Regions from separate parts of the Homo sapiens genome. Here region 1 is linked to region 2. A link means that fine-mapping ties the variant in region 2 to the expression of a gene that starts in the linked region. Tissue or cell type: whole blood. Region 2 holds a variant in brackets; the other region holds the start of a gene. All regions are shown on one strand. Distances are from middle to middle.

Region 1 (2,684 bases), 160 kb before region 2:
CAGTAAGTGCACTTTATATAGTGAAACTGGCACACAGTAGGTGCACACAGTAGTGCTTTCCGTACAGTCTTTCGCATGGAGTAGAGACAGGCACACAGCAGCTCAAGTGCTAGTTGTCATCCCCTTCCCTTCAGTCCCTCTTTTTGGAGCTCCCTTTTCTTAGGAGCCTTCCTCCGTCGCCCTCTAAGGCCTCATCTGACATCCCATTTCCCAGATGGGAAGCCTGAGCCCAGGATGGCCACACTGCCCACAGTCAGAGAAAGGACAGGGCAGAACAAGGACTCCACTCGGGATCCCCTTGCTCTGCCCTCCCCTGCCTGGACCCCGTCAGCTCAAGGCCCCTCTCAGCCTCATCCCCTGTGCCTCCGCTCTGTCCTCCTAAGCTGAGCCCAGCTTCTAGGTTTGCTCCTCCAGCTGGGCTCTTTATCCCCAGAATCTGACGAAGGTAATCCTCAGCGGGGTTGGGGCTGGATTCTTTCTTCCTGCTTCAAGCAGTCAGGCCTCAACTCAGGCCCTGGGCTGCCAGGAGGCAGGACTTGAACTCTTGCCAGGCTGTGAAGCCAGAGATGAGAGGCTTCTGTCTCTGAATCTCCTAAGTCTGCACCAAGATGTAGTGCCTGACATCCTCCCCGCCCATGTTTGGAGAGGAGCCCAGATGATCTGGGACAAGGGTTGGCCTGGCCCAGCTCAGCTGGCTGCCAACTGTCATGATAAGTATATGCTTTTATCTGAACACCCTTGTCTTGGAAGGGCAGGGTGGAGGTAAACTTGGGGTTCAGAGTCCCCTCTAACCACCCTCCAACTTCCCCTGCAAACTCCCAAGAAGGTACTGAGACCTGAGAATTCAGTGCTCGTGCTGGGGCACCCTGAGCTGCACCCAGTGGGCCCAACCCCAGGTTTTGGCTGGCTGCCCAGGCACGGAAGACACACCCAGGCTGTGGGGATTGGCTGCCTCAGCCCAGCCCAGCCCAGCCCCGCCTCCTACGGCCTTCCCTAGATCAGGGGCCAGGGCCAAAGACCTCCCAGCAGAAGAGGAGAAGAGGTTGTGTGGGACAAGCTGCTCCCGACAGAAGGTACCAGGCTGGGGGTGGCAGGGCTGGAAGGTCCTGGCCTGGGATGAAGAGGGGACTGCCTAAGGCTGGGGTGGCTCCAAGATGCTGGCATGGGAAACTGGGGGTTTCCTGGTAACTGGACTCCTAGCAAACTCCCAAGGATTCAGGTGGGGCCCTTCTGGACTCTAATCGGCCCATCTCTTTCCCTTTCTGTGTGGTTACCAGGTTACTGGAGGCCACTTAGTTGTTGGTTTTGGTTGGGACTTTCTGGACTTCAGATCTCAGCCCTCGTTTACTCACCCCTGAGCCCTCCCTGCCCTGCCCCCAGCAGTTCCTGACTTCGCCCCTATACACTGTCCCCGGAGCTCTTCCCTGGGCCTCAGGTCCTCACCCTGCATCCCCTCTGCCCTGCAGGATGTCGCTGCTGAGCCTGCCCTGGCTGGGCCTCAGACCGGTGGCAACGTCCCCATGGCTACTCCTGCTGCTGGTTGTGGGCTCCTGGCTACTCGCCCGCATCCTGGCTTGGACCTATGCCTTCTATAACAACTGCCGCCGGCTCCAGTGTTTCCCACAGCCCCCAAAACGGAACTGGTTTTGGGGTCACCTGGGCCTGGTGAGTGTGACAGCAAAATGTGTCTGGGGTCTCAGGGTGGATGGACTTCCAGAGGAGCAGGAATGGGGCTCAGTGAGCTAGGTATTGATGGTGGCTGGGGTCTGCGACCCCAGAGAAGCAAGAGAGATGGCTCACTCATTCCTCTGCTAACTCACTCATTCCTCTACCCACTCACTCCTCTACCCACTCACTCACTCCTCTACCCACTCACTCACTCCTCTACCCACTCACTCATTCCTCTACCCACTCACTCATTCCTCTACCCACTCACTCCTCTACCCACTCACTCACTCCTCTACCCACTCACTCACTCCTCTCCTCACTCACTCATTCCTCTCCTCACTCACTCATTCCTCTACCCACTCACTCACTCCTTTCCTCACTCACTCACTCCTCTCCTCACTCACTCATTCCTCTCCTCACTCACTCATTCCTCTCCTCACTCACTCATTCCTCTACCCACTCACTCACTCCTCTACCCACTCACTCAATCCTCTACCCACTCACTCACTCCTCTACCCACTCACACATTGCCCTCCTCACTCACTCATTCCTCTCCTCACTCACTCATTCCCCTCCTCACTCATTCCTCTCCTCACTCACTCATTCCTCTACCCACTCACTCATTCCTCTCCTCACTCACTCATTCCTCTACCCACTCACTCATTCCTCTCCTCACTCACTCATTCCTCTCCTCACTCGCGCATTCCTCTCATTCGCGCATTCCTCTCATTCACTCATTCCTCTCCTCACTCACTCATTCCTCTCCTCACTCTTATTCGTCTGCTCACTCACTCATTCCTCTGCTCACTCATTCCTCTCCTCATTCACTCCTTCCCCTCATCACTCACTCATTCCTCTGCCCACTCACTCATTCCTCTACCCATTCACTTATTCCTCTATCCACTCACTTTTTGCTCTCCCCACTCACTCATTCCTCTCCTCACTCACTCATTCCTCTCCTCATTCACTGATTCCTCTACCCACCGACTCATTCCTTTCCTCATTCATTCATTCCT
Region 2 (2,684 bases):
TCATGGATTTCCTCCGACACAAGATTGGCAAATTGACTTTATTCATATGCCGCGTGTCTGTAAATTTAAATATCTCCTGGTTTGGGCCAATACCTTCACCGGATGGGTCGAGGCCTTTCCCACTAGCTCTGAAAGGCTACTACAGTCATTTCTTCCCTTCTGACAGATATAATCCCCCAATTTGGCCTCCCTACTTCCACAGTTTCTCAGGCTCTTGGTATTCAGTGGAAACTTCATACCCCCTACCGTCCTCAATCTTCAGGAAAGGTAGAACGGATGAATGGTCTTTTAAAAACACACCTCACCAAGCTCAGCCTCCAACTTAAAAAGGACTGGACAGTACTTTTACCACTTGCCCTCCTCAGAATTAGGGCCTGTCCTTGAGAAGCCACAGGGTACAACCCATTTCAATTTTATATGGATGCACCTTCTTACTCAGCCACAATCTTGTTCCAGACACCAGCCCCCTGGGCAACTATCTTCCAGTCCTCTAGCAGGCTAGACAGGAAATTTGCCAAGCTGCTAATCTTCTCTTGCCTACTCCAGATTCCCAGCCATATGAAGACACCCTAGCTGGACGATCAGTCCTTGTCAAAAGTCTGACCCCTCAAACTCTACAGCCTCAATGGACCAGACCCTACCCGGTCATTTATAGCACACCAACTGCCGTCCATCTGCAGGACCCTCTCCATTGGGTTCACCATTCCAGAATAAAGCCATGCCCATCAGACAGCCAGCTTGATCTCTCCTCTTCCTCCTGGAAGCCACAAGATTAGGCCGAGAGCCGATCAGACAAACAACCTACAACCCTTAAGCTCCTGGCAGCGCCCAGCCAAGGCCATGCTTCCTTGCAACACTCCTTCCAAATGGCCATCCCAGCATGCTTCCAAGCAGGCTTCATCCGTTCCTCTGGACCCTCATCTCTTAAGACCTGCCGCCTATAAAAAGGATTATATCTTGAGACCCTATCCTCTAAAATTTTTTCCACACCCAAAACAAAAAATCTCTGGGTCAAAAGTCTAAAACGCTTAGGCTGGCAACCATCAGATCCTTGCCCATGGTGTCCTCAAGCCTACTCTCATGAAATGGACAACAGTACACGCATATGGGGCCAGTTCCACATATTTGGCAACCAGACCAGCATCCAGGACAACACAAAGTATGTTGTTTGTTGTTAGAGGGCTTGGGACATTTCACTCTTTGCCAGCCTCAGCTTAATCCAGGAGACAAAGATTATTTTCCTTATTATCTCTTCTGCATAGGATCTGCAATCAGAACTATTGAACTTCTCCATTCAGACCGCCACTCACACCTATGGGAAAAGGGTAATGTATCATCGGCTTAGCAACAGGGAATACTATTCGTATGATGGAAAATGGGGACAAAAGGCTTTGGTACATAAAACATTATTCCTTCCTTGGCCTAAAAACTCATCGCCACCTACATTAAAGCTAATATGCCTGATTACTGTTTTTAGAGAACTTATTTTATTAGGGCAGTTCCAAGCTCAAAAATACGCTAACTGGCACCTTGTTAGCTACATAAAAATGCACCCTAGACCCGAAACTTACTAGACTCATTATAAAATTTTCTTTAAGGTGTCCACGCAGTCCCTGGTCACACTTGAAGCAGTC[C/T]GGAGAAATATCAGCCCTACCCCAGTAATCCCCAGAAGGAACTTACACTTTTTTTTAATCTTTTCCTACAACTTCATATTTTATAAATAAAAAGACAAAAATGTCAGGCCTGTGAGCTGAAGCTTAGCCATTGTAACCCCTGTGACCTGCACATATCCGTCCAGGTGGCCTGCAGGAGCCAAGAAGTCTGGAGCAGCCGAAAAACCACAAAGAAGTGAAACAGCCAGTTCCTGCCTTAACTAATTAACCCACCTTACGACATTCCACCATTATGACTTGTCCACCATTATGACTTGTTCCTGCCCTGCCCCAACTGATCAATCAACCCTGTGACATTCTTCTCCTGGACAATGAGTCCCATCATCTCTCCACCATGCACCTTGTGACCCCCTCCTCTGCTGAGGATAACCACCTTTAACTGTAACTTTCCACGCCTACCCAAGCCCTATAAAGCTGCCCCTCTCCTATCTCCCTTCACTGACTCTCTTTTCGGACTCAGCCCACTTGCACCCAAGTGAATTAACAGCCTTGTTGCTCACACAAAGCCTGATTGGGTGTCTTCTATACGGACACGCGTGACAGGAACCTCAACCCAAAGGCAGTCTGATGAGGTGTCTAAGATAAAAGTAGCGGCACAAAGGCTTTTGTAAACAGAGGCGTTTCATGTGGTTTTCCTTTCCTTTCCTTATATGTGAAAAGGTGACAGAAAAGAAATCTTCCTAAAAGAGTCAGCCACTGCTCTGTGGAACGATGATCATTTAAATGCCACGTCGATTTGAAACGTACAACAAAGGGACTAACAGTTGAGAACCATGTGGATTGCAGTGGAGACGCTGGCGTTAGAGAATGCGGGGAGGGAAACGTTCATTACAAGATTTACGGCCAGCCCAAGGGGGAGCGAGGCTGGGGGACCGGGTCGCGGAGACCCGGCTTCGCACACCTTTTGGAAGACTCAGGGAGAAGCGGGGGCCGCCTTCGGGGGGAAAGGCGGGACTGGGGAGCCCACAGGCCATGGCTCCTCCCACAGGATCCCCAGGCCGGAGGCGGGAT

What was found. PIP is the estimated chance that this variant, and not a neighbour inherited with it, causes the effect.
Region 1: CYP4F12 starts here. The variant in region 2 is fine-mapped to the expression of CYP4F12 in whole blood (INTERVAL, PIP 0.94).

The regions. Positions count from the first base shown.
Region 1 is chr19:15,672,063-15,674,746 of GRCh38, forward strand. It overlaps CYP4F12 (cytochrome P450 family 4 subfamily F member 12), which reads left to right and starts at 1,025. Exons shown (of 13, transcript NM_023944.4): 1 at 1,025-1,073; 2 at 1,467-1,665. The coding sequence starts at 1,468.
Region 2 is chr19:15,833,956-15,836,639 of GRCh38, forward strand. It overlaps LOC124900418 (collagen alpha-1(I) chain-like), which reads left to right. Exons shown (of 3, transcript XM_047439793.1): 3 at 1,263-2,684. The coding sequence starts at 2,447. It overlaps UCA1 (urothelial cancer associated 1), which reads left to right. Exons shown (of 3, transcript NR_015379.3): 3 at 547-2,366. Among named protein-coding and RNA genes, the nearest start is that of UCA1, 6.4 kb to the left of the region's middle. RefSeq lists an enhancer at 983-2,182 and a silencer at 2,613-2,684. The variant C/T (reference allele first, on the strand shown) is at 1,635.